Regions from separate parts of the Homo sapiens genome. Here region 2 is linked to region 1. Evidence: fine-mapped QTL for protein levels in blood plasma. A gene starts in region 1. The other region holds a variant in brackets. All regions are shown on one strand. Distances are between the middles of the regions.

The links. PIP is the posterior inclusion probability: the model's chance that the variant is causal. Sun 2018 read protein levels with aptamers (SomaScan).
Region 2: its variant is fine-mapped to the plasma level of the IL12RB2 protein (Sun 2018, PIP 0.94).

The regions. Positions count from the first base shown.
Region 1 is chr1:67,305,597-67,310,133 of GRCh38, forward strand. It overlaps IL12RB2 (interleukin 12 receptor subunit beta 2), which reads left to right and starts at 2,277. Exons shown (of 17, transcript NM_001374259.2): 1 at 2,277-2,371. RefSeq lists enhancers at 1,500-1,599, 1,630-1,679 and a silencer at 2,140-2,329.
Region 2 is chr1:67,327,842-67,331,841 of GRCh38, forward strand. It overlaps IL12RB2 (interleukin 12 receptor subunit beta 2), which reads left to right. Exons shown (of 17, transcript NM_001374259.2): 6 at 359-543; 7 at 1,746-1,888; 8 at 2,819-2,969. Among named protein-coding and RNA genes, the nearest start is that of IL12RB2, 22 kb to the left of the region's middle. The variant A/ATTTT (reference allele first, on the strand shown) is at 2,436.

The DNA.
Region 1 (4,537 bases):
AGGAGGCTGAGGCAGGAGAATCACTTGAACCCGGGAGGTGGAGGTTGCAGTGAGCTGAAATTGTGCCACTGTACTCTAGCCGGGGCAACAGAGTGAGACGCTGTTTCAAAAAAAAAAAAACAGAAAAACATATGTATATTTATATGTGTGTATATACACACACACACATATGCACACACAAATATATAAATTAAATTTTTAAATGAGATAGAGTAAAATGCATTTTTGAAATTATTGATTTATTAACAAAACTAAAAGCCTTCCTTCTCACTAAAAAGTGTTGAAAAATCCATGAATTATGCAAGATTGTTATAACATTTGGCTATCATAATCTTATTCTTGATATCAATCAGTTTTTAAAGTAATGAGAAGCTGCTGCATTTTTATATTTTTTAACAAATGGATTTAAAATCCACTGAACTGCTCAATTAAAAGATTGAAACAAAATAGCAAATTGTTTCCGAGTTTTTAAAAGCATTTTCTGTGATGACAATCATAAAATCTTCAGTAAGAAAAACACACAATAATGGGAACACTTCGAAATATTTGTTTTCAAATCGTCTCTTCATAACAACGTATCACTTGGTGTGAAAATTACCTTGAAGAAACAACAAATAAACCTCTGGGGTTTTTTGTTCTTCAAAAAGATCTATTAGATAACATGTACTGAGAGCCATATATCAATACAGAAAAGATCAGCAAATTTAGGATATTTGGGGTTTTTTTGTAAAAATAAAGAAAATAACTCACTTTAAGACAACTTTTAAAATCTTTGTTACAAATGATTTCTACAATTATGTATCATCTCATTACAAAGTAATATTAAGATTCTAGATTCTACGATTTAAAAGATTTTAGTAAAATTATTCATGTAGATAAATTACTAAAGCATGTAAACTACAGTATGTCACAATCCCATAAAGACAATCTACTGTACATTGTTGATTCCAAGATGTACATTTTTCATATTTAACATCTCAAACATTGAGAGCGGTTTTAAGGTAATGCCCAGAAGCGTGGTATGCAGTTGTCCACTTCTGCGGGCTCAGCAAACCTGTACTGGGCTCAGTGGACTAGAAGAAAACTCCAGAGACAACGGGGTGGGGGAGGGGGGGGGACTTAAAAAAAAATTCGATAGATAATATACATATGTTTAAAATCTAAATTTTATTTAGAGATATCTAAATAAAATCTCTAAACTAAATAAAATTTTAGTTTAAAAGATTCTAAATGTTGAGAAAGCATTGTTATTGTTTACCTGGCAGTTCTTTTTATTTCTTACTAGCGCATAAATAATGGTATATCTTATAATTAAGGAAGTCTTAGATTTAAAGAAATCTAAGCTGACGGGTGCAGAGGCTCAGGCCTGTATTCCCTGCACTTTGGGAAGCCAAGGCGGGAGGATTGCTTGAGGCCAGAAGTTTGAGACCAGCCTGGGTAACAGAGTGAGAGTCTGTCTTTACAGGTTTAAATACAGTTTTTTTCTAAGTAATATTGTCATAAATATTATGTCATGAATATTATGCAGAGCTGCCGACCCCTCTGTACTCTGGGCAGTTTTCCCTCTTGCCTGAGAACACCACTTATAACACGGGACCTATACGGGAGTGGTGACACGCCATCTGTTCAAGTTTAACTTTTTTCTCATTTTTTAGACAGCAAATACAAATGGAAGTTCCAGTATGTTCTGCCCGCACTCCAGTGGGCGGTCTTGTGCACAGCCCACTTGGGAGGCCTCGGCGCTCAGGTGTGGTAAGAGCTGGGCGGTGCAGAGCACAGAGAAAGGACATCTGCGAGGAAAGTTCCCTGATGGCTGTCAACAAAGTGCCACGTCTCTATGGCTGTGAACGCTGAGCACACGATTTTATCGCGCCTATCATATCTTGGTGCATAAACGCACCTCACCTCGGTCAACCCTTGCTCCGTCTTATGAGACAGGCTTTATTATCCGCATTTTATATGAGGGGAAACTGACGGTGGAGAGAGAATTATCTTGCTCAAGGCGACACAGCAGAGCCCACAGGTGGCAGAATCCCACCCGAGCCCGCTTCGACCCGCGGGGTGGAAACCACGGGCGCCCGCCCGGCTGCGCTTCCAGAGCTGAACTGAGAAGCGAGTCCTCTCCGCCCTGCGGCCACCGCCCAGCCCCGACCCCCGCCCCGGCCCGATCCTCACTCGCCGCCAGCTCCCCGCGCCCACCCCGGAGTTGGTGGCGCAGAGGCGGGAGGCGGAGGCGGGAGGGCGGGCGCTGGCACCGGGAACGCCCGAGCGCCGGCAGAGAGCGCGGAGAGCGCGACACGTGCGGCCCAGAGCACCGGGGCCACCCGGTCCCCGCAGGCCCGGGACCGCGCCCGCTGGCAGGCGACACGTGGTGAGTGACCAGTGACTCGGGGTCGGGGACAGAGAGAGCCCCAGGATCCCGGACCAGCGGGGTGTCTGCGTGCCCGGGATTCCGTGTCTCGCGTCTCCCGAGGGGGCTTCGGCGACGGCTTCTCTCTTTATATATATATATGTATATATATATTTTTAAAGTCTTCCAATACGATCCGAAATGGCTTCTCTTCATCACAGTCCTAACGCCCTGGGCACAGATGTTCACTTGGAGGTACTGGGTGGTGGTTTGGCTGGATGGAGGGGAGGGAGCGCGCGGACTGAGCCTCCAAGGTACTCTCTGGGCCGGGGCACAGAGTGGTGGGCTCAAACGGAAGGGAGGGGACGGCGACTGGAAAAGGGCAGAGGGCACCCCTGAGGGTCCAGCCTTGGTTCAGGCCCACAGACGTGGCTCCCGTTGCTTGAAAATGTATCAAATGTGAGTAAGATATTGGGGGGGGCCTTCCGTAGTCCCGGATGAGGGTGAACTAACCTTGTCTCAGCAGTCTTTCCTGTGGCCTCTGGACTGACCCCGAGTCCCTGCCTGGCCAGTTACTAGCAAGATGCTCTGGTGCAAGCAAATTGGCCAGCCTCAGTTTTCTCTTCTGTGAAATGCCCCTTCCTTTGTGAACTATGAGGCCCTCCTCATCTCCCTAGGACACACTAAATATCAGTGTCAGCATTGTACGGGATTATGTATCTGTACCATTAGATCCAGGTCTTACAAATAGTAACCTAAAAGCATACAAATAGACCTTGTCTAAGAACAGGGTCCCGGCACGGTGGCTCACGCCTGTAATCCCAGCATTTTGGGAGGCCAAGGTGGGCAGATCACTTGAGGTCAGGAGTTCAAGACCAGCCTGGCCAACATGGTGAAACCCTGTCTCTATTAAAAATACGAAAATTAGCTGGGCATGATGACGCACACCTGTAATCCCAGCTACTCGGGAGACTGAGGCAGGAGAATTGCTTGAACCCGGGAGACAGAGGTTACAGTGAGCCAAGATGGGGCCACTGCACTCCAACCTGGGCAACAGAGCGAGACTCTGTCTTAAAAATAAATACATACATACATATACATATATATATATATACACACACACACATACACATATATATATAAAGAATAAAGCTAAATTAGTCCTTTTTTCCCCATTTTTAAAACTCTAGATAATTGTTATAATCTGCTATGTGTGTGCTCTGTGTAGATGAACATCTTTGTTGAGCACCTACTATGTATTTGGTTTTTGGATATATATTATCTAATTCCTTAAAAACATGGTGAAATTGTTATTAGTATTCCCATTTTACAGATGTGGAAACTTACATGTTTCACACAGTTAGAGAGTTACAGGTTTCTGGCTCAAAACTGTGTTCCTTCTGTTTCCACCTCTCTGGCTCAGAACCTTATAACCACCTCCACTTGAACAAACAAACGTTGGATTCTCATTTTCCATTAATAGGAATGGTACAGTGCCCTATTTCTCTGTCCAACACATAACTAAAAGGACCTTAGTGGCTAAGAGCTAACACTTTCCTTCCCTATTTTAATGTGAAATCCTCAATACATTACACTATCTGTTAGGCACAACAGCCTCCAGAAAAGTTTGCAATATGCTCTTTTCCATATGTCATGCCTCTTGAATGTCATGTTCATTACATAGGCTGATAAATTCCCAAACTTTGACAAACGGAATCTTTTCTGTATTAGAATGAGTTTTAGTGTGAAAAAAAATTCGAAAGCACACATGTAATTTTTAAGGTAGAAGAATCCGCCAAGTACAGTAGGTATTGGGCATCATTTCTCAGTTGTGGACTTATTTTTGTATTGCTGCACCTGCTTTGTTCTCTACCAAATTATTTGTCATCTTTGTAATTACGCTCACAGCACTGCTGTCAACTCCTACAAATAAATTTGTGCAGAATGGCGGGACACGGTGTCTCATACCTGTAATCCCAGCACTTTGGGAGGCCGAGGTGGGGGGATCACCTGAGGTCAGGAGTTTGAGACTAGCCTGACCAACATGGCGAAACCCTGTCTCTACTGAAAACACAAAAATTAGCGGGGCATGGTGGCACACACCATGTGGCATGGTAATCCCAGCTACTCGGGAGGTTGAGACAGGAGAATCGATTGAACCCGGGAGGCAGAGGTTGCAGTGAGCAG
Region 2 (4,000 bases), 22 kb after region 1:
CTGACAATTCTGTGCCACAGATGTCAAGGTGGCCACAGTGCTTAGGATAATGTTTGGAACTGCCCTGGGGAGCCAAGATGACAAGCAGGGTTTGGGGAATTTCAGCAGCGTAGGCTTGGTTACCTATCTACATGAATGTGGAAGAACATCTCAGTTCTACCAAAAAAGGGAGTTGGGTGAAGTATAGTCTTACATGACCATATAGTACAAATATTCCCGGGGTGTATCCCCTAGTCATAAGATTGACCTTTAAAAATTGTCTAGAATTCTAAATATTTAAACATTTTGTTCTTTTCTACTGTAAGTAGAAAGTAGCACATAAAACATGTTGCTACACGTGGTTGTGTTTTGTTTACAGGCTAAGTGGACCAAAAAATTTAACCTGGCAGAAGCAATGTAAAGACATTTATTGTGACTATTTGGACTTTGGAATCAACCTCACCCCTGAATCACCTGAATCCAATTTCACAGCCAAGGTTACTGCTGTCAATAGTCTTGGAAGCTCCTCTTCACTTCCATCCACATTCACATTCTTGGACATAGGTACATTTTATTTCACTGTTTCATTGGTACTTTATAATTATTTTTAAAATCACTCAAATCTTTTTTATATGGTTGTTTCAAGAAAGACAGAGATTGATGGAAATTGGCCAACAGGCATAAGCAAAAGATAGAAGTTACTTTGATGCAAGTAAAAGGGTGCATTATTCTGAGCTATCTAAAGATGGCTATACAAAGTGGGATGTTCAACATTATTCTCTCTATTGAAGAAATTAGCCCCTGGATTCAAATCCCATGAAAGAACCAGCTACTAATGATACCACCTGACTGAGGAGAGGGTCCTGTGAGGTCATTCAAGATGCTCAGTGCAAGCCCTTCTTGGAGGAGGTGTCCTTTCGCCCCCATGGCTACTCCCATTGTTGTGAGATAGGCTACATGTGGGCCTGCTAGGCTAGAGCAGCGAGGTACAAACTATAAATAAAATTTCTCAAGTCACAGATGCATCTTGCTCTGAGAATACTCACCTCCATCCCTGGAGTGAGCCAGTACATTTCTGAGCAAATGTAATCGGTCCAGTTGAATCAGAGGCCAATCTCAAGCATTCCAAGTTCTGACCATCCAGGCAGAACTGGGCTGCCTGAAGTTCCAACCTCACACTATGTGCTTCTCGCCTCTCTTTCCATGGCACTTCTCTGCATACATATTGCTAACGATGAGTCTGATCATTGGCATTTACTATACACTTTTCCACCATATTTCTTCTCAGGCTTCCTCCCATTTCTTTCATAGACCGTTCATCTCTAGGCTACCTTCTCGCCCCCTTGTTCTTTTCCTCTGTCCCTTTGCTATGAATTTTCCTACGAACATTTCTTCTCCTCCTGAGGCAGTCATCACTAGCCGTCTCTGGCTTCTCAGTCATTGGAACTCTTGGGTTTGGCACATTGGTTTTTGAAAAACCACTGGACTAAGTGTAGTTGAAACTTACCACTAATGTTGGTAGTAGTTATTTGGTGAAAATGAGATTTGATTAAGGGGGATTATTTTAAAGATTCAGAAGTGAATCCAGCTTTTAAAAAAGTTCTTTCTTAAAGCCTGGAACTTTTCTCTTGTATATTTTACCAAATTTGATGGTTGTGCATCTCAGAACTGAGTTTTGTCAAACTCTTTATAGCTCATGCCAGTACATAAGACAATTGCTGATCACAGATCCTGAACCACACTTTTTTGTTTGTCCTGGTTACTAGTGAGGCCTCTTCCTCCGTGGGACATTAGAATCAAATTTCAAAAGGCTTCTGTGAGCAGATGTACCCTTTATTGGAGAGATGAGGGACTGGTACTGCTTAATCGACTCAGATATCGGCCCAGTAACAGCAGGCTCTGGAATATGGTAATTATCTTTAGAGTGAAGGAAAAAACACTGAAGCATTCTTAATATTGCTGCGCAGACCTCTGTCTTTTCATACAGCAAAAAATAGAGTTTAAGAATATTTATCCCAAAAGTACACACGAGAGAATTATCAGAAAGTCATGTATGCCTCTGTTGATTAAGAAATATCTTGAATTTTGATCTCTGATTCTGAAATTTTTAAAGCTTTTGTAAACCAATATTAATTTTCTATAGTTTATTTCTAACAGAGGATTCATTTCTCCTTATTATTTACCCTGTCCTGTTATTATTTTTTAGCATTTAAAAAAGATATTGAAAAGAGAAATATTAAGAAATGTCCACAGAGAGTTATATAGAATTTAATATTCCAAAGAAAAGGTCTACAATTTAATATAATATTAGGCATTGCATGTTTTAAAATAAAAGGTATAGGATTATGATTCTTTCCGGGATTGTTGTAAAATTCAATGGCTTATAATAACAAAGGATCAGTCCCACAGATAGCTGATATTCAAGAGAGTATAACTAATTAAAGGGTTTTTTTAAA[A/ATTTT]AAAAAAAAAGCCAGTGCTATGTTTGTGTTAAAACATTCATCACATCCTAATTGTAATCAAATAAAAAATAATCTCTAGTGTAGAAACTTTGTAGTTTTCAATCTTATTTTTCAGCTGGTTTCAGGATTCCCCTCGAGAACCTACATAGATGGGTTCTTAGTACCCAGAGATTTTGTTTTATTTTTAATGAGATGCTATCATTTCAGATTAATATCATATCTATTCGGTAAGACAGTCACTGATATTTCTTCTCATTTAATGGTAGGTCTGAAAAACAAATAAGATCAAATAGCCTGGGTTTTTTTTTTTTCATTTTATGTTAAAATTCCTTAAATTAGCAATCTAGTATTAATAGGCACTTTAAAAAAATGTCTGTTTCAAGGTTAATGTTACAAAGGCCAAAGGAAGACATGATTTGCTGGATCTGAAACCATTTACAGAATATGAATTTCAGATTTCCTCTAAGCTACATCTTTATAAGGGAAGTTGGAGTGATTGGAGTGAATCATTGAGAGCACAAACACCAGAAGAAGGTATATGTCCAAAATATACATACCTATCGGGGAGCAATAAAGGGGAGAGAGGGGGGAAGATGTAATGATTTCCTTGGAATAGAATCTTTAAACTACTGGTGCTGAATCAAAAAGCATGACTGCATTAGTTAACAAGTTAATTTTTATATTAACTTAAGTGCTGAAACTGTTCAAGGAAATATGTTTGTGTTGCAAGGAAATTTTTAACATTGGGTAAGTTCTACTCCTGTTTGCTATCAGTCATGTTGGTTATAATGCTTGGTTATAACTTATCTCTCTTACTATCTCAGTAACTTATTTCACAGAGCTATAACCAGTAATTAATCTCATTTCTTGTTAAAGCTTCATATGTTTTATATTTTTGATTCTATGAAAAGTAATGTGGCTCAATAAGCCATATGGAAAGCTTGAAAGAAAGTAGGCTCTGGAGACACATATTTCAAAATAAAATTTAGCATCCAGCAATCCTCTCTTGTCCAAATATTATAACACTGTACTTCAAGCCTTTGATATTTACTGCACAAATGAGAACCACCTGGCCACCCATAACTATGAAAAGGATATCAAATGTGTTTTTCAGTCTGATGAATTTTTCTTTTTTAGTAATTATTGGGAAGGGAATGTTATTGAAGTATAAGAAAATATTTTATTGAAGCAAAAATGCCTATGTAAACTTTATGCCAATATTAAATCTTTGGAGACACAAGAAATAGCCATCTGAATATTAGTTTTTAAAAGCACTCATTTAGGCCGGCATGGTCGCTCAGGCCTGTAATCCCAGCACATTGGGAGGCTGAGGTGGGCAGATCACGAGGTCAGGAGTTCGAGACCAGCCTGGCCAGCATGGTGAAATCCCATCTCTACCAAAAAGACAAGAAATTAGCCAAGCATCGTGGTGCGTGCCTGTAATCCCAGCCATTCGGGAGGCTAAGGCAGGAGAATCACTTGAACCCAGGAGGCAAAGGTTGCAATGAGCCAAGATTGTGCCACTGCAATCCAGCCTGGGCAACAGATCGAGACTGCATCTCATA